Regions from separate parts of the Homo sapiens genome. Here regions 1 and 3 are each linked to region 2. The links come from fine-mapping of genetic effects on gene expression. A gene starts in region 2. Each other region holds a variant in brackets. All regions are shown on one strand. Distances are from middle to middle.

Region 1 (8,180 bases), 61 kb before region 2:
AGTCCCAGGGCCTGTTCTCTTGAATTGCCTCTTTTGACACAATAACGCTTGGTGAAGGGTGGACTTGAGTATCTCCAAGGCACAGGGGTCCAAGAGCCACCCTGCCCTCCCCTCTCTCTGCTCCAGCTGTGGGTGCCAGCCTGGCTGTGGAGGGGATGAAAGGGTCCTGGATGAGTCTGTACCAGTTCCTGCATCCCTCCTTCCTAAAGGTGCTCTCACTTGTCCTCCAGCTCCCCTCAGCCCCCGCAGGTAATGCTGTAAGAGCTCCTGGATCCAATTTGTCTTGGTGTCTGCATTCCTGCCTGCCTGCCCTAGGTCTGGGCCTGCTAGGCTCTTATCTACTAGGCTTCTGGCCTATGGCATTCTTGTTTTGTTTTGTTTTCGTTTGAGGCAGAGTCTTACTGTGTCGCCCAGGCTGGAGTGCAGTGGCGCAATCTCGGCTCACTGCAACCTCCACCTCCCAAGAGGCGGGTTCAAGCAATTCTCGTGCCTCAGCCTCCCAAAAAGCTGGGATTACAGGCATGCACCTCCACGCCCAGCTAATTTTTGTAATTTTAGTACAGATGGGGTTTCATTATGTTGGCCAGGCTGGTCTCAAACTCCTGACCTCATGTGATCCACCCACCTCGGCCTTCCAAAGTGCTGGGATTACAGGTGTGAGCCACCATGCCTGGCCTCTCTTGTTTCTTACAAGTCTCACTTCAGTCTTGATCTGACGTCTGACACCTGCCTGGGTCCTCAAGACTGGCTTCAAGTTGCCTGGCTCTAGCTTCTGCATCACACTCATGCAGGCCATACTTCTCTTTACATCCTCCTGCTTCCAAAGCTCTAAAGCATTTTGCAAAAAGTTCCCAGAAATTTCAGATAGCCTGGCAAATGGACAAGCCACCTGAATTTTCACAGAAGTGTATTTAAGTAAACTACTCAAATTTGGTCTACTTTTAAATTTTGTAAGAATTTCTGGCTGTGGAGGACAGCAACTTCCTCTGGGTCTTTCCTGGACTCTGGAAAGGGGATGAGTGGCTCTGCACACTACTAGGGCCCAGAAGACCCTTCCCAACCCCATACTGACCCACAGCCATGGACGGGGCAGGAGGGAAGGAGTCCACAGGCACCGAGTCTGGCGGTCGTCCATAAGTCATTTCATACAGTAAGTGGCCAAAGCAGTGGACATCCACACTTTCCAATGTCTGTGGAAGAAAGAGTAGCAGCGTGTTCACCCTTCACTTTGGCTTTGTGGACCCTCGCGCTCCTGCCCCAAGGCTTCTCTGAGAAACAAAGCCCAGGGATAGCCCCGTTCCTAATTGGTAACGTAAATGCAACTCCAAAGCCTTCTGTAAAACCTCATGAGGTATCCCAAAGGTCTTGGTCCGACCCTCCACAGTTTTCCAATCAGTGAGTCCACCTCCCTCCTTACCCCACCCGCCATTTCAACTCAGCCTCCCAGAGATACAGCAACGCTGCAAGGGCTGACGGGCAAGGCCTGTCCCAACTATACCTTTCACTACTTGGTGCATATTTCCTACATGGGCAGATCATGGGGATAACTGACACCTAAAAATGAACCTGCTATTTCATTACTTTAGCAACTTACATTGATTTTCCTGAATTGTGAAAAATAAGATCGGTAGAAGGAAGGCAGGCCCAATAAGGAATTCTCAAGGTCCAGCAGCCGGCAAGTGTCCCCATCGAGCATCACATTGGAGGCGTGAAGATGCCCATAAGGGAATCCCTTGTCATGAAGAAACTTCAGTACCTATCAAAACATATGGGAAAGTTACATTTTCCCCAAACTCATTCAGATATAAGACAAGTTAAACTTTGTTTTTTAGTCAATATATTTTGAAACAAAACCAAACAGGTCACTGAGAAGATTCCTGAAGAAAAATGCCACCTCTACCCATTTGTTTGGAAAAGGAAGTGAAGCTGAATGCTTTCCAGTTTTGAGGCTGTGAGATGCAACATCAGTTCTTTCTTTCCTCAAAAGAATAGAGAAGCAGCCTGCATATGCTTGGAATTAATAACTCTGATGCCAAAAGGCTCTGCTTTAAGCACTTTCTGATTCCAATAGGCCAGCTCTCTTCAGGGCAAAGTCTTGATCCTCCTGCATAGATGAGTGAAGCTATCTTATCAGTGCTTCTGCCAGTAATTCAGAAAAAGGGGTTGAACTAGAAAACATCTCTAGTTCAGTCTCTCCTCCAAATATATTTAGCTGTTTATTAATAGGAACACACAACAGGATCCCAGAAAAAGCAGTAAATATTTCCGCTGCCATATAAATAATCAGTGGCTTACCCAGTAAGAGAGATGCTTAGATATAGCCCTGCAATGTCCTGGTGAACTAGAGCAGTGATAGGCAAGTGGGGTGCCCAGAGCAATTCACTAAGGACTAGAAGAAAATATTACAACTTCTCTTCATAGTTGTTGTTTTTTAAAAATGTTATTTTTTTAACTTATAATATACAAAATATATTACTAGTATGCTGTCTCCATCCAAACAAATATAATATATATACACACATACACATATATGTATGTGCATAGTACACGCATATAATTTATAGTTAAATAGACATAACATTGGGATATTAAATTGGTTATTACTGATAAGGTTGCATAATCCCAGAAGCTTGGAGAATCCTGATCTAGAGGGTGATGTCGGAAAGCCTTCTCACTGTTGGTTATACTTCTGTAAGGGAGCCATATGGCTATGCATATGACATAACAAAATCAAAAACCTTGGCATGGGGATAAAGAGCAACCAAAGATAATATAAAAGTTGGTATCCACACAGTAAAGTTCTTAAAACTCAGACACTAAATTGCAATAGCTAAAGCTTTAAGAATTTTGTAGACATAAGTGACTGTTGCCTTAGTCTCAAATATTTACTTTTTGAGGCAAAATATGACAATGCAATCAGTTTATAAGTAATCAGACAACTTAAGTAATTTTGGATATTACTTAAGAACTTTTCCAGGTGAATAATGCAATTTTGGATGAAATCTGAATGCAACTTAAACAAAAGTACCTCTTACCTCTAATATTTGCCGTCCATATGTTTTTATTTGCTGGAGTTCCAGGCCCTGAATCTTCTTAGGGTTGCAGTACTTCTTTAGAAATGGGTCTTTTGGTTTTGCCTTTGGAAAAGAACAAAGAACACGTAAGAAAGCAGCAGAGGGGCCAATATCTGCACACAGACTCCCTGACCAGGCAGGATTCTACAGAGGCTAGGGGCGCCAGAGATGGCCAGCTGCAAGATGTGAGTTTTTAAAATACGACAGTCTGCATTGTTGATAGAAAGAGGCTGACCCAGGTTCCATCCCTTCTCTAGCCCAGTGAAGATGTGCCTGGTCTTGCCCTTAGCAGACCCCAAAGTCTTGCATATTGTTCGAATTCTTCAGAACTGCTTTGTTAAGCGCAAAACACAAACTTAAAAACTGACCTAAGAGAACAGCTTGCCATGTAATGGACATAATTATTAAATGTTCAACCTTTCCTCACATGGGAAAAGGAATGCTCTTTAACCAAACTAAGTAGAGTTTTTATTGCATGAATAAAAATAAATTCCAAATAAAATCAAAACTAACATCAAATCCTCAGGGCCTAGCCTCTGGAGTCTTAGAGACTAAGTATCAATAACAGGTTCTAAAGGAACTTGAGAATTCCTTATGACCATGAACTTGCACAGGTACCTTGTAGATCAGATCCTTCAATGTTCCCTTTTCGTTAAACATCCTAATTAGCAACGCTGAGGATTCATTAGCTGTGGCAAAGGTAACCCGATAGATGTAAGGGTGCTGTCAAAACAAAAAAGAAATTCACATTGATTTGCGTCAGGATCTAGGTCCTTTTAAATACAGGATCTGGTTATGCAGAGTCAAGTAGCACTGTGGTGGTTTAATTGCATACGAATGTAGTGATATTCCCTGAACACATGGCATTTTCAAGTTATTCAGTTACCAGCTAGTTCCTCCTTCTTCAGATGGAGGAAGGGACATAAACTGTAGGAACAAAGGAAAACAGGAGACAGATAATGGATGTGGTAAACTCCACAAG[T/A]GAAGGGGTCCTCTTTGGTGTGTGCACTCTCATAGCTCAGGCAAAAGTGTGGTGGAAGAGATAAAATGTCTGAGTTTTGAGGATAATAGTGTTAATATCCTGTCTCTGTAAGTCAGTAAAGAATACAGCCAAATCTCAGAACAGCCAAATGGAGACCAGGATCAATGTGTCTTTGCTCACAGCTTTGCCTAACATTCCACACTGCTGTTTGGGTGCCAAGCCAAGAAGCATACTAGCCAGAAAACAGGCAAAAGTAGCATCTTCTGGAATCTCAGCCCTTTCCACAGTAGCTGGCATGAATCTTCCTACCCTTCTATAGAATTCTGCAACATAAAGATTCACAGTGTCCTCCTCAGATGGAGAAACTGACATTAAGCAACTGGGGTGGAGAAAAGACAAATTATTTAATGAGTGAAAGGAAAGTGCTGTTTTTCCCTGGAATTCTGGTTACGTGAAACAAACTGGGTCCAGACAGGTATTACAATGTTCACTAGCTCAAAGGAGTATCATGAAAATTTAAACCCATGGGAGCTGAGCTATGCAGGGATTTTGGAGGCTGGCATGCAGCAGGTTGGGGGGTGGAAAGGTGTACCCAGGAAAACAGAGTAATTGATCATGAAGTTCTCCTGATCATCACATCAAAATGGTTGCTGCTGACTTTTTAACAGCTTTGTTGAGATATAATTCACATGCCATTACTATTCACACATTTAAACTGTACAAGTCAATGATTTTCAGTATATTCAGTTATACAACCATCATACAATCTAATTATAGAACATTTTCATCACCCCAAAAAGAAACACAATGGGTAGAATAAAAATCCTTGAGTACATACTAATATAAATTTTTTTAAAAGGGAGAAGAGAAGCTCTTTAGAGTAGAATGCCAACTAATAAGTAAATACGGAAGGAATAATAGAGTTAGAAAATCACATTAAATGTTAAAATGCTAGTGGGCTTCATAAAGAACAGAATATGTAGTGTCACAATATCTCCTTACACATTGGTTATTAATTATAGGTATTTACCTTAAGAAATTAAGTATGGGTATAATGTTTAGCAAAAATTGTTCATTATGGCTTTTTTCTTTTTTAAAAAATAAGAGCAAAAAGCTGGAGGTGATCTAAATGTCAATAGAAGATTGAGTAAACTAAGGTATAGCCAATGATAATTCTATACAGCCCATAATAATGATGCTATATTTACTAACAACTAAAGATGCTCATGGTACACCATTAATGAAAAAAAAATCAGGTTTTAAAGCACTACATATATAATTTACTTTTTTATCATAAAAATTCTTAAAAAGTAACAACTGAATATTTTGGTTCATACTTCTGTTTGACTGGGATTACTGGTGAGTTTTCTTTTCTTTTCTTTCTTTTTTTTTGAGACGGAGTCTGCTCTGTTGCCCAGGCTGGAGTGCAGTGGCACGATCTCGGCTCACTGCAAGCTCCGCCTCCCGGGTTCACGCCATTCTCCTGCCTCAGCCTTCCTAGTAGCTGGGACCACAGGTGCCCACCACCACGTCCAGCTAATTTTTTCTATTTTTAGTAGAGACAGGGTTTCACCATGTTAGCCAGGATGGTTTCGATCTCCTGACCTTGTGATCCATCCGCCTCAGCCTCCCAAAGTGCTGGGATTACAGGCATGAGCCACCACACTCGGCTTATTTTCTTATTTTTGCTTATCTGCCTTCTGACTTTGCTACAATTAATATGCACCATTTTTATGTGCTTCTTTTTTTAAAGAAGCACTTCTATTAAAAGAAATTTAGGGCCGGGTGCGGTGGCTCACACCTGTCATCCCAGCACTTTGGGAAGTCGAGGCAGGCGGATCATGAGGTCAGGAGTTCAAGATCTGCCCGGCCAACATGGTGAAACCCCATCTCTACTAAAAATACAAAAATTAGCTGGGTGTGGTGGCATGCACCTGTAATCCCAGCTACTTGGGAGGCTGAGGCAGGAGAATCGCCTGAACCCAGGAGGTGGAGGTTGCAGTGAGCCGAGATCGCACCACTGCATTCCAGCCTGGGTGACAAAGAGAGACTCCACCTTGAAAAAAAAAAAAAAGAAATTTAGAACTAGGTCCTGACAGCCTATGTCACACAACCAATCAAGCTCTAAGACTAAAGCGTCTTTTTGGCCTCACATTGCACCTCATTAATAGCTTGGTTTGCAAGCTTGACAAGACACTATATGGCCAAAAATAAACTTGCCAAACCAAGTGCACAAGTCAGTGTAATTGTGTTCAGTTCGCTAGTGATTCATTCCAGGGAACTACATCTTCATGCAGACAAGATAAAGAATGTCAATGTTAACTCAATTTCCTGGCCAGATTAGTCTTTGCTGAAGACATTCTGCACATATTTTGAAATATATCAACGTGGTTCTTTGCACTGAAGGCCCTGGATTAGAGCTGTGTAGTCGTGTAAATAATATCATGTATTCCTAAAGGTCATCTGGTTAGCCTGTGAAGGTAGTAACTCAGACAGAAAAATGGCTATTTTGCCTTTTCTTCACCCAGCTTATCTAAATTCCTCATTAGTTCTGTTTTCTCAGGCTGGAAAGAGTATCTTTCAGTTCCACTGAGATAAATACCTTCACCAAGAACAACAGGCTGGGAGAAGTAGCTGCTTCCCTACTCTCATCTTTGTTTAAAATTCAAAGTCTGTATTTAAATTACTATGTTTCATGGGTTGTGCAGATGTCATGAATGCCATTTCAAATAGCCTATGATCTAAGAGATTAGCCCTACACAATTTCAGTCTGACCTGAAATCCACTGTATCTCCCCATTCTGTTTTCCAGCTTTTCTGTCCATGTTCACCCAGAAAAAATACTGTGACTCTATCATCAGCACTGAGAATAAAAGAAAGACGTATACTCACCAAACAAGAAGGCAGAAGTTTGATTAGACACTGAAAATCTTTATCTGACAAATACTTGTCTGGGCCAAGGTCAGCCTGAAAACATGGAAGGGAATATCAGGGTACTGTTTTGGTCACCAAAAGAAAAATTCCTTGTCTTTCCCTTTAATTTTATTATCCAAAATATGACTGGAAACCAAAGACGAAAACAACACTAAGTCTGGCTGCCTCAAGACCTTTCTGGAGAAGCAGTGTGTAAAAATACCAGACTTAACTGTAATCTTATCTAATTCCACTAACCAAATCTATCACTAAAACTCTCAAAGTCAAAGAGATAAAGTAATGCCCAAGTATTTTTTTTTTTGGGAAGTAAACTCCAAAACTATAAACCCTAAAGAGATTCCAGAGAGTTATTTTAAGCTGTTCTTGTTTCTTTTCAAATGTTTACTAGTTGACCAAATATAATTGCATTTATATAACCAAATACACAGGAAAATGACTCAAAATGACTTTTCTTTGACATGGACCAAGGAAGCCTTTACATCATCACTTAAGAGCACAGTACAATTTTGTAATTCTCTTGTCAAATCTGCTTTCATTAACCCATCTAAAGTCACTGAAGGAGACCAAAGCAAAAAGCTAGCTTACCCAGCTTAACACTAGCCGTTCCTTTGGCTGATTTTTAATCTTCATCAAGAAATATTTCTTCCTTATTCTCCAACCTGCCATAAAAGCAAAAATGTGCTTAGAGCTGCACAATTTTTGCAACAACTGATATGTTTCACTGACTAGGTAATCAAGAAAAATTAAGTTTGGCAATATTATTCGCAGCTACATAGGCACAAGTAAAAGAACCATTTGATAACGTTGGCATAGTAAAGGCTATACTTAAAAAGAAACAGTAAATGAAGAAATTATTCACGGAAAAGGCAGGAAAGTAGCACTTCAGTTTAGATGTAGTGAAAAAGATAGATGAAGAAGGAATGGTGTTTCTGAAAGTTATTACCATCCAAATGCTTTGATGGGGCTTTAACCAAGGTTCATTAAGTATTAAAAGTTACCAGCTGTATCCTCAAGCAGTTGATATGCAAAAAGAAAAAGAAGTCACCTGCATTTAAGCATGTTCCTGGGATACGTATCAGAAAGCATGACTAAGGATCCAGTTCTGTGATCTGTCTTTTTAACAGAATGAGCGTGCCAATGTCTCACCTATGTCTTTCAAAGGTTCCACCACCTCCCACTTTGGTTCTGATC
Region 2 (8,180 bases):
TATGGTGGTGCATGCCTATAGTCCCAGCTACTCAGGAGGCTGAGGCAGGAGTATTCCTTGAGCCAGGAGACTGAGGTTGCCGTGAGCTGTGGTCCTGTACTCTAGCCTGGGTGACAGAGCAAGAACCTGTCTCACAATGAAAAAAAAAAGACCTTGGAATCCAACAGAACAAAAGCTCCATGGATGCAGGAGCTGTCTGGTTCACCATTCTATCTCTAGCATGTGCCTGGCACATAGTAGGCATTTAATACATTTTTGTTGAATGAATGAGTATAGCTGAATAAATAAGCCATGCAGGAATGCAGTTTCCAAATATCAAAAGTTCAAGGAGAGATCCATTTTCAGTAAAGATTTTAACATGTAATATTATCTTTTCCACTGATTTTAAAAAATGTTTTCTATTGTGCCTTAACTATCACTATAATTATCTGTTTCTCAAAAACAAAATGTCCAAATGGAAGATAAACAGTCCCTGATCCAGATGAACTCCACAGAAGAATATTTAAAAAGGAGAAAACTGCCAGGCATGGTGGCTCAAACCTGTAATCCCTGCGCCTTAGGAGCCCGAGGCAGGTGGATCACCTGAGGTCAGGTGTTCAAGACCAGCCTAGTCAACGTGGTGAAACCCCATCTCTACTAAAAATACAAAAATTAGCCAGGCATGGTGGTGCATACCTGTAATCCCAGCTACTTGGGAGGCTGAGGCAGAAGAATCGCTTGAACCTGGGAGGTGGAGGTTGCAGTGAGCTGAGATTGCGACCTGCACTCTAGTCTGGTGACAGAGCGAGACTCTGTCCCCCACCCCCCAAAAAAAGGAGAAAACTGAGATGAAAAGCTATCACACACAGCCTACCCACCAGCAAAAATTGGATGTGCACATTTGATAACAGCGCTTTCCAAAACTTTGTTTCCTCTGGTTTCTATTTCAGCTATGTAAGCATTTTTTTAGTCTACTAACTTTAAAAAGTTTTCCCTTTTATATAGCCAAGAACTTACCTTTCCCTTGTCCTCTCTTGGTCCTCCTAAATTTTCTCACAACTCACCTGTGTGGCTTTTCACCAGAATTCCTTTTGTCTGGAAAATCTTCCTTCTTCCTCCAAACCTAACCTGAAAGCATCCTCCCCCTAAATACTAGCCTTTCTGATTTTATAGAAGCTTCATTTCCTTGCAGCAGAGGGCTGGTCTAGCTCTTAATGCTAAATTCATTTTGCTCCATAAAAATGATGCATCAGCATCAGCAAAGCACAGAATCACCTACCAACACATGTCCTTTCTGCCAGTTGCTCATCCAAATATGCCTTTCTGGTGGTGACCTTGTGTTCCCTTCATCCTTCTGGTGACTCAGTTTTCCAAACCACAGAATTTTTCCCTACCAAGTTCACAAATCCTAAATCATTTCTGTTATAGGTGGTTTCCCAGCTGGGTGCAGTGGTTCACACCTATAATCCCAGCACTTTGGGAGGCTGAGGTGGGAGGATCACTTGAGGTCAGGAGTTCAAGACCAGCCTGGGCAACACAGCAAGAACCCCATTGGTATTAAAAAAAAAAAAAAAAAATATATATATATATATATATATATATATATATATGTTTCCCAAGGTTAAACAAACTTGATAAATGAAAGGAACTATGGACAGAAATGAGCTTGCTTGCAATAACGCCCTCTAATGTGTTTAACGCTTTGCACAAATGTTGTCAGGGAGTGAAGAGATGGAGGGAGGAAGGAATACATTTTACAAATACTTCATCAAGATGATTTCATTTGATCTTCCTAACAACCTTGGGAGGCAGGCAGGGCAGGCATTTATTACTCCCATTTACAGATGACAAAACTAAACTTCAAAAAGGTTTAAGTGACTTGCCCAGCCTATATCACATGACTAGCAAGTATCAGCTCAGACCTGTATTAAGGTCTTGCCTCTTCCAACCCCAAGTCTGTCTCTAACTCCGTATGTTTCTGTCTACAGCCAAGGAGTAACTTCCTAGAGATTCAGCATTTCAAAGCGAGAGTAGAGCTCTGACTTCTGGAACACCATCTCCCTTCAGCTACCAAGCTGGAAAGCCAACTTCAATCTCCCCAAGAAAAAACAGTGCCTTTCTCTTCTACATACCCCTCTTAACAACTACTTCTTTCCAAAATAATTTCCAACAGTTCCTGTTTTAAAAAAGACTTACTCATAAGACACTAACAGTCCAAAAAGTTTGCATCAGCGTAAGATTTTCTCAATAAACTTCAGGGCTGATGCAACATTTCTCAGTCAAACTTTACAGCTAAAATGACAAGAACACAGAACAGTCAAAAAATTACGCAAGACAATGCTACAGTTTTTTACTCTACCACATCTGCCTCTATGGGTCTCCTGTGAGTCACTGTCTTTTGTGGTCAGTCATCCCTACAAGAACTGCCATTTTCTACCCTAAATTATTTTATTTTTTAAAGAAAAGATCTGCAGGGCCAGGTGTGGTGGCTCACATCTGTATACCAGCACTTTGTGGGGCTGAGGCAGGAGAACGGCCTGAGCCCAGGCGTTCCAGACCAGCCTGGACAACATGGTGAGACGCTGTCTCCACACACACACACACACACACACACACACACACACACACACCAGCCTGGACAACATGGTGAGACGCTGTCTCTACACACACACACACACACACACACACAGACACACACACACACACACACACACACACACCCTTACAATAAAAACAGAATCCTATTACATCTTTCGCCACCTAGCTAAAGCACTGATCTCTAAGTTATTTTTTCAATGTTTACAATTACCATTTTACATAAACAGAAAAAGAGGCATAGTAAGGTTGAAGTTGGATTATTTAGTCATTTGATAAACACATTTGAAATCCTATCAAAAACCAGGGAATGAGACTCAAAAGTGAGGAAGAAGTGCCCCTCCTCTTGTAGCCTGGTGGAGACAAAAAGTAAAGAAGTAATTACAGGACAAACTAATCAAGATTAAGGTGTGGGTAGGCACATGGGCTGGGGCTGTAGAAATCATGAATGCTTCCTAGGGAAAGTAATTTGTGAGTATTTAGAAACATCTATCTCTTTATTTTCAATACAAAATAAACCTAAAGGACTCGACACTATTCCCTGAAAGGTTATAAGACTTACTTGCCAATAGTCAAGTCAAAAATCAAATTTAATAGCTGAATTACTCTTGACTCCCTATCCTAAATTTCAACCCTTATGCCATACTCCCTTTAGGCACAAATGATAGCAAGTTTAACAAATTCTGTCCTGTATGTGCCTTCTCACATGTCTACAGAATAGGATTAAAGACACACAGCGTGAAATAAATAGCCCTTTTTAAAAAGATAATAATTTTCTTAACTGGAAGTGAATGCTTTGAACAATTCAAGCCCTACAAAGCACGGCTGTCAGAAGAGGAAACTGAGGTTCAAAAAAGTCTCACTTTAATACAACAGAATAAAAGGTCTCTTTGAAGTCATCAGAAGAGCTTGAACGAAAAGAGAAACAGAAGGCTATTGTGAGCTTTAGCCTCCAGATGATGACCCCCCAAACACACTGCAATGGTAAACAAACAAGCCTCTGAGTCTGAATCTGATTCGGTGGACTGACAAAACATCACAATTGAAGGAATCTCTCTCCTCACTCATTACTTTTCCAAAAAAGTCCCACTAGCTGATAGCTCCAGGTTTCTTGCTGGTTCCTAGATTTATTGCTTGGAAATTATAATGCATAGTGGGCCTTTCAAAAAAAAAAAAAGGTACAAGCAAATGAAAACAACCACGGTTTTAAAGCCCCATAAAAGACCGTATATGTAGCAGAAATGAACCCTGCCAATGTTTACTATGAGGACCTATTACTCCTTTATGCTACTCGAGTGGATTTTAAACTCAAATGAATGCTACCACTGCCCACTAAAGAGCAAGTTAGAGAAGCACATTCATACACCTGCTTAACAGCGCCCCGACTGCCGCCCCCACCACTTCCCGGGACCAGGGCCAAGCGGCTGACCTGGAAACGGGGCTGCAGACCCCAGCCACTTACACTCTGCTGTCCCAACAAGTAGGCTCTGGAGTCACACTTCATTTGGCCCGGCACACCCTCATCCCCATCACCCAGACCCTCAGCTGCAAGGAGGAAATTACACGGCCTCAAAAAGGAAAAGGCTGGCGGCGGGCAGAAGTGGATGGTCCTGAGCGGTCTCGTTCCTGCTCCCCTAGTCCAAGGTGAGCCCGGGAATCCCGCAGCCCCCGCCCCCGCCCCCCAACTCGGAGTCGCTTTCCTGGTCGCCGCCGAGCTCCTTCCACCCCGCGGCGCCGGGAGCTGCGGTCCCCATCCTTGGCCCCTCCGGGCCTCAGCGTTCGCCTGGGCCCCAGGGGCCCTGACCCAGACCCAGCGGCGCGCCACAGCCTTCTCGGCCAGGGCCGCCCACCCTGTGGCCCGGTCTCCGTCCGACGACCCTGCCCGGCCCGCGCCAGGCAGCCCGCAGCCCCCTCGCGGCCCGGGGCCGCCCCACGCCGCCCGCCCGCCCGCTGGGCCGCGCACCGTGTGGGACTGCAGGCTCTGGCTCGCCTCGATGGCTGCTGTCAGCGGCACCGTGTCGTCCAGCAGCACCTTGCCGGCTGGCGGCTTCTCCATGAAGGCCATCCCGGGACGCCCGGCCGCCGCCGCCTAGGGACGCGAGGTAGGAACCCGAGGCGCCGACTCCCGCCGCCCGCCCGGTTCCACCGCCGCCGCTGTCAACACGCGCCGCCCCACGCGCCGCCGGGCCCGCGGGGTCCTAGCGCCGCCCTTCCCACGGCCGCCGCCCCGGAGTCCTAGCGCCGACCCAGCGCAGAACGTGTGGGGGCCGCCAGCACTGCCGCCCGCTGGCCCGCTCCTCCGCCTCGCGGCTGCCATGGGCCTGCGCTTCCCTGCTCCTCGCAGCCGCACCGCAGACCCGGTGCCCTTAGCTCCGGGCTTCGGACCAGGGAACACCACCCTAAGCCATCACTACCAGGATCCTCAGATCCAGAGACGCCTGGTCCTGAGCCCTGGGATCCAGGAATCTTCAGGGCGAGATTTCCAAACCAGGCCTCTCAGAACTGGGCTTTTCGGGGACCGTACCTCTTGAAACCCTCAGAACTGGATCTCTCTCATCCCCCAGGCCCAAGGACCCTAAAACTCAGAAAAAGGGCCTTTAGGATGGGACCCCCAGTCTGAGCCCTGCAAACCCAGAGACTTTCTGAAACAAGCCCTTCCTATTGAAACTTCACAGGGACTCTTGAACGTGGCTCCTCAGGCCTGAACACCTAAGAGCTGGACCCCATAATTGGAGGTCTTGGGCCCCAGAACCCTCAGACCCAAGCTCTAAGAACTGGAGACCCTATAAAATGGTCCAGAGACCCCTAGCCTCTACTCTTGGCCCCCACTGCGGGCTCAACCACATCCCTTAGACTTGGGAGTTTTTGATCCCACCATATGGACTAGAAGAACTTCAAACCAAGAGCCAAGCCAGAGAACCTTGGGATCAACTTCTCAGCCCTAAATCTGCCCACAGTCTGCCTGAACCCAAAGCCATAATCCTGGCACCACCTCATCCCCCCCATCTCCATATACACCTAGAAATTTCACCCACACTGCCCTCTCCTAGGGCAGCATTCCAGGATAGTGAAGAGTTAAATTTAGAATTGGAGGACCATCATCTCCATGGCTCTGGCATTTACCAGCTGTGTGATCTTCAATAAGTTACCCAACCTCTCTGAGTCCCAACTCCCCAATTTGCAAAGTGGAGATAATATTATTTGTATGAAAAGGTTAATACAAGGAATGCAGTAGACTGGGAAGGGGCTTGGCACATAGTAAAAACTCAAACGGTGGTCAGGCATGATCGCTCACGCTTGTAATCCCAGCACTTTGGGAAGCCAAGGTGGGTGGATCACCTGAGGTCAGGAATTTGAGACCAGCCTGGCCAACATGGCAAAACCCCCTCTACTAAAAATATAAAAATTAGCTGGGCATGGTGGCACGTGCCTGTAGACCCAGCTACTCTGGAGGCTGAGGCAGGAGAATTGCTTGAACCCGGGAGGGGGAGGTTGCAGTGAGCCAAGATCATACCACTACACTCCAGCCTGGGTGACAGAGTGAGACTCTGTCTCAAAAAACAAACAAAAAAACAGACAAACAAAAACACCTCAAACCGTGGTCAGGCATGATGGCTCACCTTTGTAATTCCAGCACTTTGGGAGGCTGAGGAGAGTGGATGGCTTGAGTCCAGGAGTTTAGCCTGGGCAATATGGTGAGACCCCGTCTCTACAAAAAAATTTTAAAAATACCTGGGCATGATGGCTCACACCTGTGGTCCCAACTACTCAGGAGGCTGAGGTGGGAGAGTTTTTTGAGCACAGGAGGTTGAAGCCGCAGTGAGCCATGATCATGCCACTTCACTCCAGCCTGGGTAACAGAGCAAGACCGTCTCCGGAAAAACAAAAAAAAAACAAAACAAAGTCAATATTAGTTTCCTCCTTCCCCTACAGTTGACAGAATGGAAGGTTCCTAACTCTTAAATTTGCCTCCACTAAATTTCTACACTTCAGATAAGGGAACAAAGTTCCTTGGTAATCCCACCACCACCACCAAAATTTGACATCACAGGAAAGGCCCACATCATACATAAAGGGTCCCTTCTCCAGATCTCAAGCTTATTGGGATTGGTGGGCAGCCCCGTTGAGTCAAGTAGCCATGAGATTGGTCCCAGGGGCCAAGATCTAATAGAGCGAGATGTGAAGAAGGAATCCTGGACCTTCATGATTCAGCCCTAAAATAATCAGAACTCTCCCTCCATTCCACTTTTGTGCCAGTGTGTTTAAAAGCAGCAGTCTATTAAAGCAAAACCATATGTCATTTAGGGAGGATTCAACTTTTTACTTTCATTTCTTTGTTTTAAGGCAAATAGATTATTTCTCTGCCAGAGTCACAGAAACCAAAATCCAGCTATAATCATTACTCCTATTGTGATGTGGACTGACCAAGACAAGGCTCTTTTCTCTTACTGCAGGTGGGAGTATAAATTGGCGCCACCTTTCTGGAGGGCATTCGTACATTCATTCAACAATTATTTGCTAAGTACCTACTATGTAATAGACCTAGTACTAGGAGCTAAAACAAATATGTATTAAGGGCTTTGAAAATGTTCTTATCCTATGACCAAGTAATTCTGCGTCTAGGAGGGTATCCTAAGAAAATAATCAGAGATCAGTAAAAAAAAAAAAATAGCATGCAAGGATAAATGACTAACAGTTGGGTTTTGGACAAATCTTGGTACAATCATGAATTTTTTGCAATGTTAAAAATCAGGCCAGGGTAAGTGGTGCATGCCTATAGTCCCAGGCACTCAGGAGGCTGAGGTGGGAGGATCACTTGAACCCGGAAGGTGGAGGCTGCAGTGAGCCAAGATTGCATCACCGCATTCCAGCCTGGGCAACAGAGCAAAACCCTGTCTCAACAAACAAACAAACAAATAAATAAATAAAAAGTCACATGATTAAAAAATATTTTATGATCTTGAGAAATGCTCTTGATATAATAGTAAATGAAAAAAGCAATTTAGCATCCGTATAATCCCAACATATCTACAGGACAAACACCAGAAGAAAATATATCAAAATATGGGCTGAGTACAGAGGCTCACACCTGTAATCCCAGCACTTTGAGAGGCCGAGGCGGGCACATCACTTGAGGTCAGAAGTCTGAGACCAGCCTGGACAACATGGTGAAAACCTGTCTCTACTTTTAGAGAAAAATTAGCCAGAACATGGTGGCACACACCTGTAATCCCAGCTACTCGGGAAGTTGAAGCAGGAGAATCATTTAAACCCAAGAGGTGGAGGTTGCAGTGAGCCGATATCGTATCACTGCACTCCAGCCTCAGTGACAGAGCGAGACTCCGTCTCAAAAATAAATAAATAAATATGAACGGTGGGCCTCTAAGAAGCAGGATCATGATGATTTCTTCTGTATGCTTTTCTGTATTTAACTTGTATGATTGGGGGAAAAATGTTAGACAACTGGAGTCCAGTGCTCTGACAACTGCTTCCATAAGATAAAGTCATGACAGTAACTGGAAGAAGGCTTCTCTGGGGTTTAGCTCCATTTTCTCTGTAATCTGTCCACACAGTCCAAATGCTTTTGTAAGAGAAACCAACTTGTC
Region 3 (8,151 bases), 91 kb before region 2:
TATTTTTAAAAGCAAATCCAGAAAGCGGTTCCCCATAATTAGCATTCCTTACATTTTCTCTTCCTGGTCAGCCACACCTCTGTGCCAAGGTGGTAGTGCCCAGCTGGCATTTGCACTCTCTCAGTTGAGCCTTCCTTCTCCTAGGTCCTGCGTTCAATTTCCTGGATGCTCCTGCTGTTCGTGTCACTGGTGCTGATGTCCCTATGCCTTATGCAAAGATTCTAGAGGACAACTCTATACCTCAGGTCAAAGACATCATATTTGCAATAAAGAAAACATTAAATATTTAGTTTGGACTTGAATATCAAGTCGTTGAAATTTATTTGAAATACTTGCTGGCACTGCACCTGGATTTGTACTGCAAGACCTGACTATTCATAACGGAAAACGATTTCTAAAGCAACAGCAGGTATTTTTGTACAGGGAAGTTTAAATGTGTTTGTGTATGGAAAACTCTCCACTCTCCTCCCCTAGATGCCATGCTTCCTTTTGTCTGTTACGGTTGCCATGTTCTTTGAATAACAAATTATATAACATTTTATCCTCTCTCACCACAAGGACAAAGTATGGATGTGGCAGAGTCCTCATGAAAGATGTATCCAAACAAGATAACTTATATGTATAAAATTAAAGCATATAATATACATTTACTGTTAGTTTGTTTTGATAAGGAATAAAGGAATTTCTAACATGACTAATTTTTTTTTTTTTGAGACAATGTTTGGCTCTGTTCCCCAAGCTGGAGTGTGATGGCACAATCTTGGCTCACTGCAGCCTCCACCTCCCAGGTTCAAGTGATTCTCCTGCCTCAGCCTCAGTAGGAAATTAGCCACCACATCCGGCTAATTTTGGTGTTTTTAGTAGAGGTGGGGTTTCACCATGTTGGCCAGGCTGGTCTTGAACACCTGACCTCAGGTGATCCACCTGCCTTGGCCCTCCCAAACTGCTGGGATTACAGGCATGAGCCACCACACCTGGCCATGACTATTGTATTTTTATATTGAAAGAATTGGCTGGGCTGGGCGTGGTGGCTCATGCCTGTAATCCCAGTACTTTGGGAGGCCAAGGCGGGCAGAACATGATGTCAGGAGATCAAGACCATCCTGGCTAACATGGTGAAACCCTGTCTACTAAAGCCGGGCATGGTGGCATGCGCCTGTAGACCCAGCTGCTCGGGAGGCTGAGGCAGGATAATTGCTTGAACCCAGGAGGCGGAGGTTGCAGTGAGCAGAGATGGCGCCACTGTACTCCAGCCTGGACAACAGAGCAAGACTCCGTCTCAAAAAAAAGAATTGGCTGGGTGTGGTGGCTCAGACATGTAATCCTAGCACTTTGGGAGGCCGAGGTGGGTGGATCCCTTGAGTGTAGGAGTTCAGGACCAGCCTGGGGAACATGGCAAAACCCCATCTCTACAAAGAAAAGATAGATAGAAAAAAAAAAAGTCAATGTGGGTAGAAAACTTGAAATTCTATTTATTAAGAAATTAGTGCTGCCAGGCCACAGTAGCTCATGCCTATAATCCCAGCACTTTGGGAGGCTGAGGCAGGGATTGCTTGAGCCCAGGAGTTTGAGACCAGCCTGGGGCAACGTTGCAAAAACCCTGCCTACAAAAACAAAACAAAAAAAACAAAACAAAAAACCCAGGTATCTGGTGGTGTGCCTATAGGAGGATTGCTTGAGCCCTGGGAGGTCAAGGCTGCAGTGAGCTGTGATTGGGTCACTGCACTCCAGCCTGAGTGAAAGAGCGAAACCCTGTCTTAAAAATAACAACAAAAGAAATTAGTTCCATGTGGAAAATAAGCTGATACTGTACAAGACCATTACCTGTTTGTATTCATATATCTGAACTATCCAGAATAGTCAGCAAAACTGACTTCAGAAGGACTCAGGCCTCACAAGCCTCCATCAGGTAATCACCTAGGTTGCATCACACTTGAAACAGGAACTTCTCCACAGACTCTCCAAATGCCTAATTCTAATAGCATTCTCTTTAAAATTATGGCAAAGTTTATATCAGTTGTTTTTCCCATTTCCAAAGATCAGATATTCTGTCAAATACTGCCCTCCAGAAGCTGAGATGGAAAAGATGGGTTTAAATTAGTTAGAGAAGCATATAGGTGGTACCTAATTTAAGTAGCAAGGCAGGATTTTTAGTTCTTAGAGGAAAAGTGAGACACAAAAGAATAAGAGACAGGATAGGTAGGAAGGAAACCTTAGACTGTGTGAATCTATTCTTTGCTAACAACAGACGCTACAAAAAGTTCTCATTTGAAATATCTTGTCAAGCTACAGACAACACGTTTTCTTGACATGATTTTAATAAAAAATACAGCTGACATAACAGATTACATGAAACTATACACAATGACATTCTCTGCATAGTAACCAACACTGATGTGTGTACTTGAATTTTTAAATGGATTATTTATAATCCTTTAAAGTGCAATTTATTGAAAGGTTTAAGCAAATCAGGATAAAGGATCTTTCTAATAAATGACTAACATTAAAGAGATGCTATATTGATATATTTAGATAAATCTTTCAAAAATCATAATTGATTTCTATAGATGCCAAATTTACTTCTGTTGTAACAATGACCTGCCCCCCTCAAACCCCAAACTTAATTGCTGAGGATTAAGAAGATCCTCTAATTGGCAAGAGCTTTTTCTGATGTTAATATTTTTGTCTGTTTCAATACATCTAACTAAAAAGAACTATGGGTCTAGAGTAGTTGCTTTAGCAGCCCTGAGTTCTATAACCACAATGGTATTCCTGTTAGAACTTAAGAGAATGTTGTGAACGTTCCCCATTCTATTTGAGGAGAAAACAAAGAACTCAGTTGCTTTCTGATTTAGCAAAGTAACTATGCTTTGGGCTATAGTGTTAATGTCTAAGATAAAGGTAGCAAAAATTGGAGTTATCTAAGAATCAGAAAATGCTTTAGAGAAATGAACTGTAAGAGGAATGTTTCTAGGAGCTGTCTGATGGGGTAGAAGGGATTGCAACACAAAGGCCATTTACTGCTGTGATTGAATATTGTCATTGTTTTTCTGTCTATTTCCTTTAGTTGGTGAAAATATTTCAATATGCTGCTGTCCCAAAAGCCTGGCCATTAGAGGATAAACAAGACTCCTTTACAGGGTTAATAAAGGAGCAAGATCTTAAGGGAGCAATGCCAGCCTAACTTTATTCTGCTTAAAGAATTATTTCTCTCGAAAAGCTGCTTACATGAGCATCTGCAAAATAGTACTGTTTGTGGCTGTACTGGCTCAGCAATTACTTTCCCAGGAAGAGGGTAGTTTGGGGGGTAGGGGTGAGTAGGAATAAAAAAGAACTTTTCCCTCCAAGTGTAAACAGGAAGCTTCAGCCGATCTTCGGAGCACTGTGATCACAGGTTTTGGCTTTCCTCAAAGTTCCTTTTTGGAAATTCTGGATGGAGCTGAGCAAGGCCCCTCGGCTCATGCCATTCACAGCCTGAGACGAGAGCTGGGCAGGTGCCTCGGTGCTCGCAGGAGGCAAGGGAGCTGCTGGTGGTGGTGGAGGTGGAGGAGGTGGAGGTAATGCAGATATCCCTGTGGAGGAAAAGGGGGACAATCAGTATTCACCTCCACAGCTGCCCTGCACACACGCTGCTGCTCAGTCCTGAGCACAACGGACTGGTGAGAGTCCACATGTTTTTCTCAGAGGGACCAACATACCTAGTACTGTATGAGTTCTTAAAATACTAAAGAAAGCTAGAAGCATCAAAGGGGAATTAAAAGTTGCCATGTTTCTCAAACAATAGTCATGTTAAAGGCTGTTGGAACAAATAATTACAGATTACATGAAACCACATATGGTGACATTCTCTGCATAGATGAGGCTCTGACCCCATTTGCAAAGTAATAGTCCCCAAAGAAGAGTTCCATCTATCAGTTACTTTAGCCAGGTCCCAGGAAGCTCTGTCTGCTTCTGAGCTAGCAATTAAAGATAGACATCTGCATGATGGAGTTGGGCTTCCTGAATGTCAGTTATTCATAAGGGGTGAACAGTTCTTTCGCTGCTCCAACATACACAATGTTTGAAGGATGTGATCTTATGTAAAATGACAGACCACTCAGGATTCTCAGCAAGGAATCAGTGCCTCCTGGGTTATGCATTTCCCAGAGGAGTCTGTCTCGAATAATAATTTCCTATTAGGTTGCATTAAAGAAATATAAAATGCTAATAACTGTTAGCAATGCAAAGCAGGGGGCAGAGGGGTCTCTCTGCCATGGTATTCTTACAGAGAAATCCTTCTCAAGTACTGTTCTCTCCATTGTGGCCCAACCAAGGAACAGGACATAACTGCACTAAATGTCTTTGACGAAGCATCAGGAGAAACTAGAATGTCGTGCTGTACCGCAGTGGGCAAGGAGAGGGAAACTGGGCAGGTGTCTAAAACTTCCCTCAGCTTCCAGGCACATGGACATTTGCAACTCGAATTTTATATTTTAGAATCAATGAATGGTTCTCTCAGGACAGAATAAACACCCGAGTTCAGAAAAAGCCTTGCCTTAAAGAATGTTCCTGTGCCACAGTTAGTTGCCTCGTCTCCTGTGACCTTGCAGCTCTCTGAGACTCTGTCAGATGCTGTCTCTGTCCCTCCCAGGGCTACTCCAGGGAGACATTCTGCCAGGTGGTTTCCCCTACACTGCTACTGAGTTGTGATAAGTAACAGGTAAAGCTACCCTACTTAAGTTTGTATGGACGACTGGCTCAGAATCACCAACACAATACTCAGGTAAGTACATCCTTTTCACCAAGTGTGACAGGTATGGGTTAAAGTCTTACAATAGAAAATCACTTACCTTTCTTTACATCTTTTACTCAAACCTAAGGCAGCTGAAATTAAAGAATCACACAAATACACACGCTCATGCTCTGCAATCTTGGAATGCTCAAAGATAGCAATACAAATAAAGACTAAATACAGACAAATGACCAACATGTTCATTGGTTCTACACA[A/G]TAACAACTGATGAATGAAATTGTTATGTTTTATGCTAAGGTGGATTGTGGGAAAATGTTCCTGGCTTTATGTCACCAGGTTACAGAGATAAAAAGGACTTTAAACCTGAAGTAACTGTTGAAGTGGGAAAACGGAGAATAAGCATGTGTGATGAGCATTCCTCTGAAGAGGACTTCTGGAGAGCAACCAGTGAAATACCAGGAGGAGGGGAGACCTCTGCTGAAGGTTTTTGGAACTGAGTCTCTTGACTGCAACACCAAGTGGGCCCGAAGGAGTGAGCTCTGCCCACTTGGGGGTAAGTAGGTGCCAGTGCCCTTCCCCAGCACCCTCCCACCCAATAGCCAGAAAAGGGCAGTGGAATCTGGACTTGATATTCAGGGCCACGTAGTGTAACAGAAGGAGCTCCAGGGTTTCTGCCTCCCAGGTTTGTGCTTTGACCCCCGGCAGAAGAATCACTGTGCAGTTAAGGACAGGCTCTCGGCTGCGGCGGTACTTGGGAGTTCTACTAAAGGCTCAGCACTGGCCATCTAGAGACTGACTAGCCCTCCAGGCAAGGATTTTGGGGGGCTGGAGACGGGCCTCAGGGCTGGGCTGAGGGGTAGGGGCTGCCATCTTGGCACAGAACAAAACTGCTTGGCCTCACAGAGAACCAACCCTTGGTTTTGGCGTCATTACCAGGCCCTCAAAATTAGAAGTGCAAATGCACCACCGCAGAGTTTGGGAGTTGAGGGTGGGGTTCAGTACATGGATTTTCCACTGTCCAAGTAAATGGACATGGATTTTCCACTGTCACTTTAAATGAGTCTCTTTGAAAATGTAGGTGGTGTCAATAAATACACTGTCCAAAGGGCTCCAGGGCTCCAGTAAAGCAGATGGAACGAAAGGACAGGCAGCAGGATCTCCCTGATGTGGCCTCAGCAGGCTGGAGCAGTCCGGTGGGGCTTGATGTCCCAGCAAGTCCACTTTTCCTCACTGGGCCTACAACAACCATGGTGGCTCTTATGTACAACCAGGGCAAGGAAGGCCAGACCCAGCTTGCCAGTTTGGAACACTCTGGAGGGGAGAGGAGGTCTAGGGGTCAGAAGGTGGAAACTGGAGGAGGCAGGAACACAGACCTGGGACTCGGTCTCACTCAGTCTGCCCCATTGATTGTTTTTGGCTTTTCCTTTTGGCCCTTTCCATGGTCCACAAGCTTCCTGAAAGGTCCGTTGGGGCTTCAGCTACAACACATGGCTAACAATGGAGGAAGAGGGGGCAGGGGCAACAAGGGCCAAATGAAAGTTACCATTTGGCCTGTGACAAACCTGGGAACAACTGCCTGCTGCCTGCGCGCTCTCCACCCCTCAGATGTGAATGAGGCCTTCCTGCCAAGAGACCTCCAATACCCTTATCTCCAGGCCACATATGAGAGCAGACCGATTCCATGTTAGACTTATGATACCTGAATTTGCACCCAGGAAGGGGGATGCTGCAAACAGCTTACCTTCAGTTACGACCAGGTCAGTCCCGATTTCTCCCATCTCACTTTCTCTTAGACAAAATCCCTGAGAGCCAACTACTTACTCTACCCACCCCAAAATCTTCTCCACCAAACCACACGGGAACCTGGCAGTCCAGCAGAGGCCCTGTCAGAGGGCAGAGAATGCTGCAGGGAGAGCGTAGGTCAGATCTAGGGAGGAATGCCAGGCCAGAAACCCCCTTGACAGCCTTGTGGACAGGATGTCTGAGGGTCCCTCCCTCCAGTTCCTTTTTTTCTGAGATGGAGTCTCGCTCTGTTGCCCAGGCTGGAGTGCAGTGGCGCGATCTCGGCTCACTGCAAGCTCCGCCTCCCGGGTTCAAGTGATTCTCTGCCTCAGCCTCCCGAGTAGCTGGGATTACAGGCGCGTGGTACCATGCCCACCTAATTTTTGTATTTTTAGTACAGATGGGGTTTCACCATGTTGGCCAGGTTGGTCTTGAACTCCTGATCCTTGTGATCCGCCCGCCTCAGCCTCCCAAAGTGCTGAGATTATAGATGTGAGCCACTGCGCCTGGCTCCCTTCCCCACCGACTCTTAGGCCCATGTTAGCAGCCAGCAGTGGGTAATCTACAGTCTCTCTAATTCTGAGCTCCTTTGTGGTCACATACAGGAAGGGAGGCCAAGTGGCCATGAGACCACACTAGGGTAACACCAGACTTACCAGCCACCCTCAGGAGAGAACCGAAGCAGGCAAGCCCCCAGCTCTCGGGAGAACCACCTTCTCCTTTGGCTTCAGGCAGGTGAGGAGGCTGTACTCCTGTCACAGCTCGAGAATTATAAAGGATGCTTACAAAAGAACTGTTTTTCCCTACCGTCAGTTATAAAAGCCAGTAAGTTGTCTCCCTGTAACTAAGAGCTCAAGTGCCTAACACTCTTTCCTCTTCATCAGAGTAACTAGGAATCAACATTTTTGCAGCAACGGGACTTTGAGAGTTATGGTTTCCAAAATTAAAATATACCAAAATGCCATGCAGTTGATTTGCAGGTTTTAGAGCTGTATTTTAAAACTGAAATCAGAGTGAAAATGAAGATTTTGAAGGTCATGATGAAAATGAAATGAATATAGATGAAGTCACTGGGTGCTTTTTAAAGATGCTGTATTTCATTTAAATATTCAGATAAGGAAATAGTCTCAAATCTGCTTTCCCACTTGTTCATCACTTCAGCAATCGAGACACTTTGGGTCCTATTTCACACACAGAAACAGAGCATCTTTAAAGTCTGAGAAATCAGCATAGTTTACTTTACCGAAAATTCACGTTCAAAATGGTGCATGCTCTACTGAAAACAGCAAAGAGAGAGAGAGAAAGGGGGGACACAAGTCATTATTCAGATTTTAGTGTCATTTAATCAAATAGTAACAGACAGTAAAATATTAGTCTGAATCACAAGCTGATTATTCTCACTTCGAAACTAGGATATACTCAAATTAACCACAGCACTGGTTTGTAAACACGATTGTGAGCCTTTTAAAACATGGCAAACGTATTTATAGAATAACCAATGAGTCGCTTTTTGAGCCACCTAATGAGTCACTTTCTTCATGTTCTTTGTCCTCTGAGCCAGTTAGATACTATTTTTATTTATTTACAAGCATGACGCTCACTTCAGAAAAGCCATGAAGGTTTTACCTCTGAAGAGCAG

What was found.
Region 1: its variant is fine-mapped to the expression of PXK in whole blood (TOPMed, PIP above 0.99). The same link has a PIP of 0.9 or more in blood mononuclear cells.
Region 3: its variant is fine-mapped to the expression of PXK in whole blood (TOPMed, PIP 0.98).

Annotation. Positions count from the first base shown.
Region 1 is chr3:58,390,615-58,398,794 of GRCh38, reverse strand. It overlaps PXK (PX domain containing serine/threonine kinase like), which reads right to left. Exons shown (of 18, transcript NM_017771.5): 5 at 8,136-8,180; 6 at 7,575-7,648; 7 at 6,948-7,022; 8 at 3,693-3,797; 9 at 3,036-3,137; 10 at 1,595-1,756; 11 at 1,073-1,190. Among named protein-coding and RNA genes, the nearest start is that of PDHB, 39 kb to the left of the region's middle. RefSeq lists an enhancer at 790-1,289. The variant T/A (reference allele first, on the strand shown) is at 4,057.
Region 2 is chr3:58,329,448-58,337,627 of GRCh38, reverse strand. PXK (PX domain containing serine/threonine kinase like) reads right to left here and starts at 4,736. Exons shown (of 18, transcript NM_017771.5): 1 at 4,538-4,736. The coding sequence starts at 4,639. RefSeq lists silencers at 3,892-4,186, 4,433-4,962.
Region 3 is chr3:58,420,173-58,428,323 of GRCh38, reverse strand. PXK (PX domain containing serine/threonine kinase like) reads right to left here. Exons shown (of 18, transcript NM_017771.5): 18 at 2,197-3,572. The coding sequence ends at 3,364. It overlaps PDHB (pyruvate dehydrogenase E1 subunit beta), which reads left to right. Exons shown (of 10, transcript NM_000925.4): 10 at 145-694. The coding sequence ends at 290. Among named protein-coding and RNA genes, the nearest start is that of PDHB, 9.6 kb to the left of the region's middle. The variant A/G (reference allele first, on the strand shown) is at 4,988.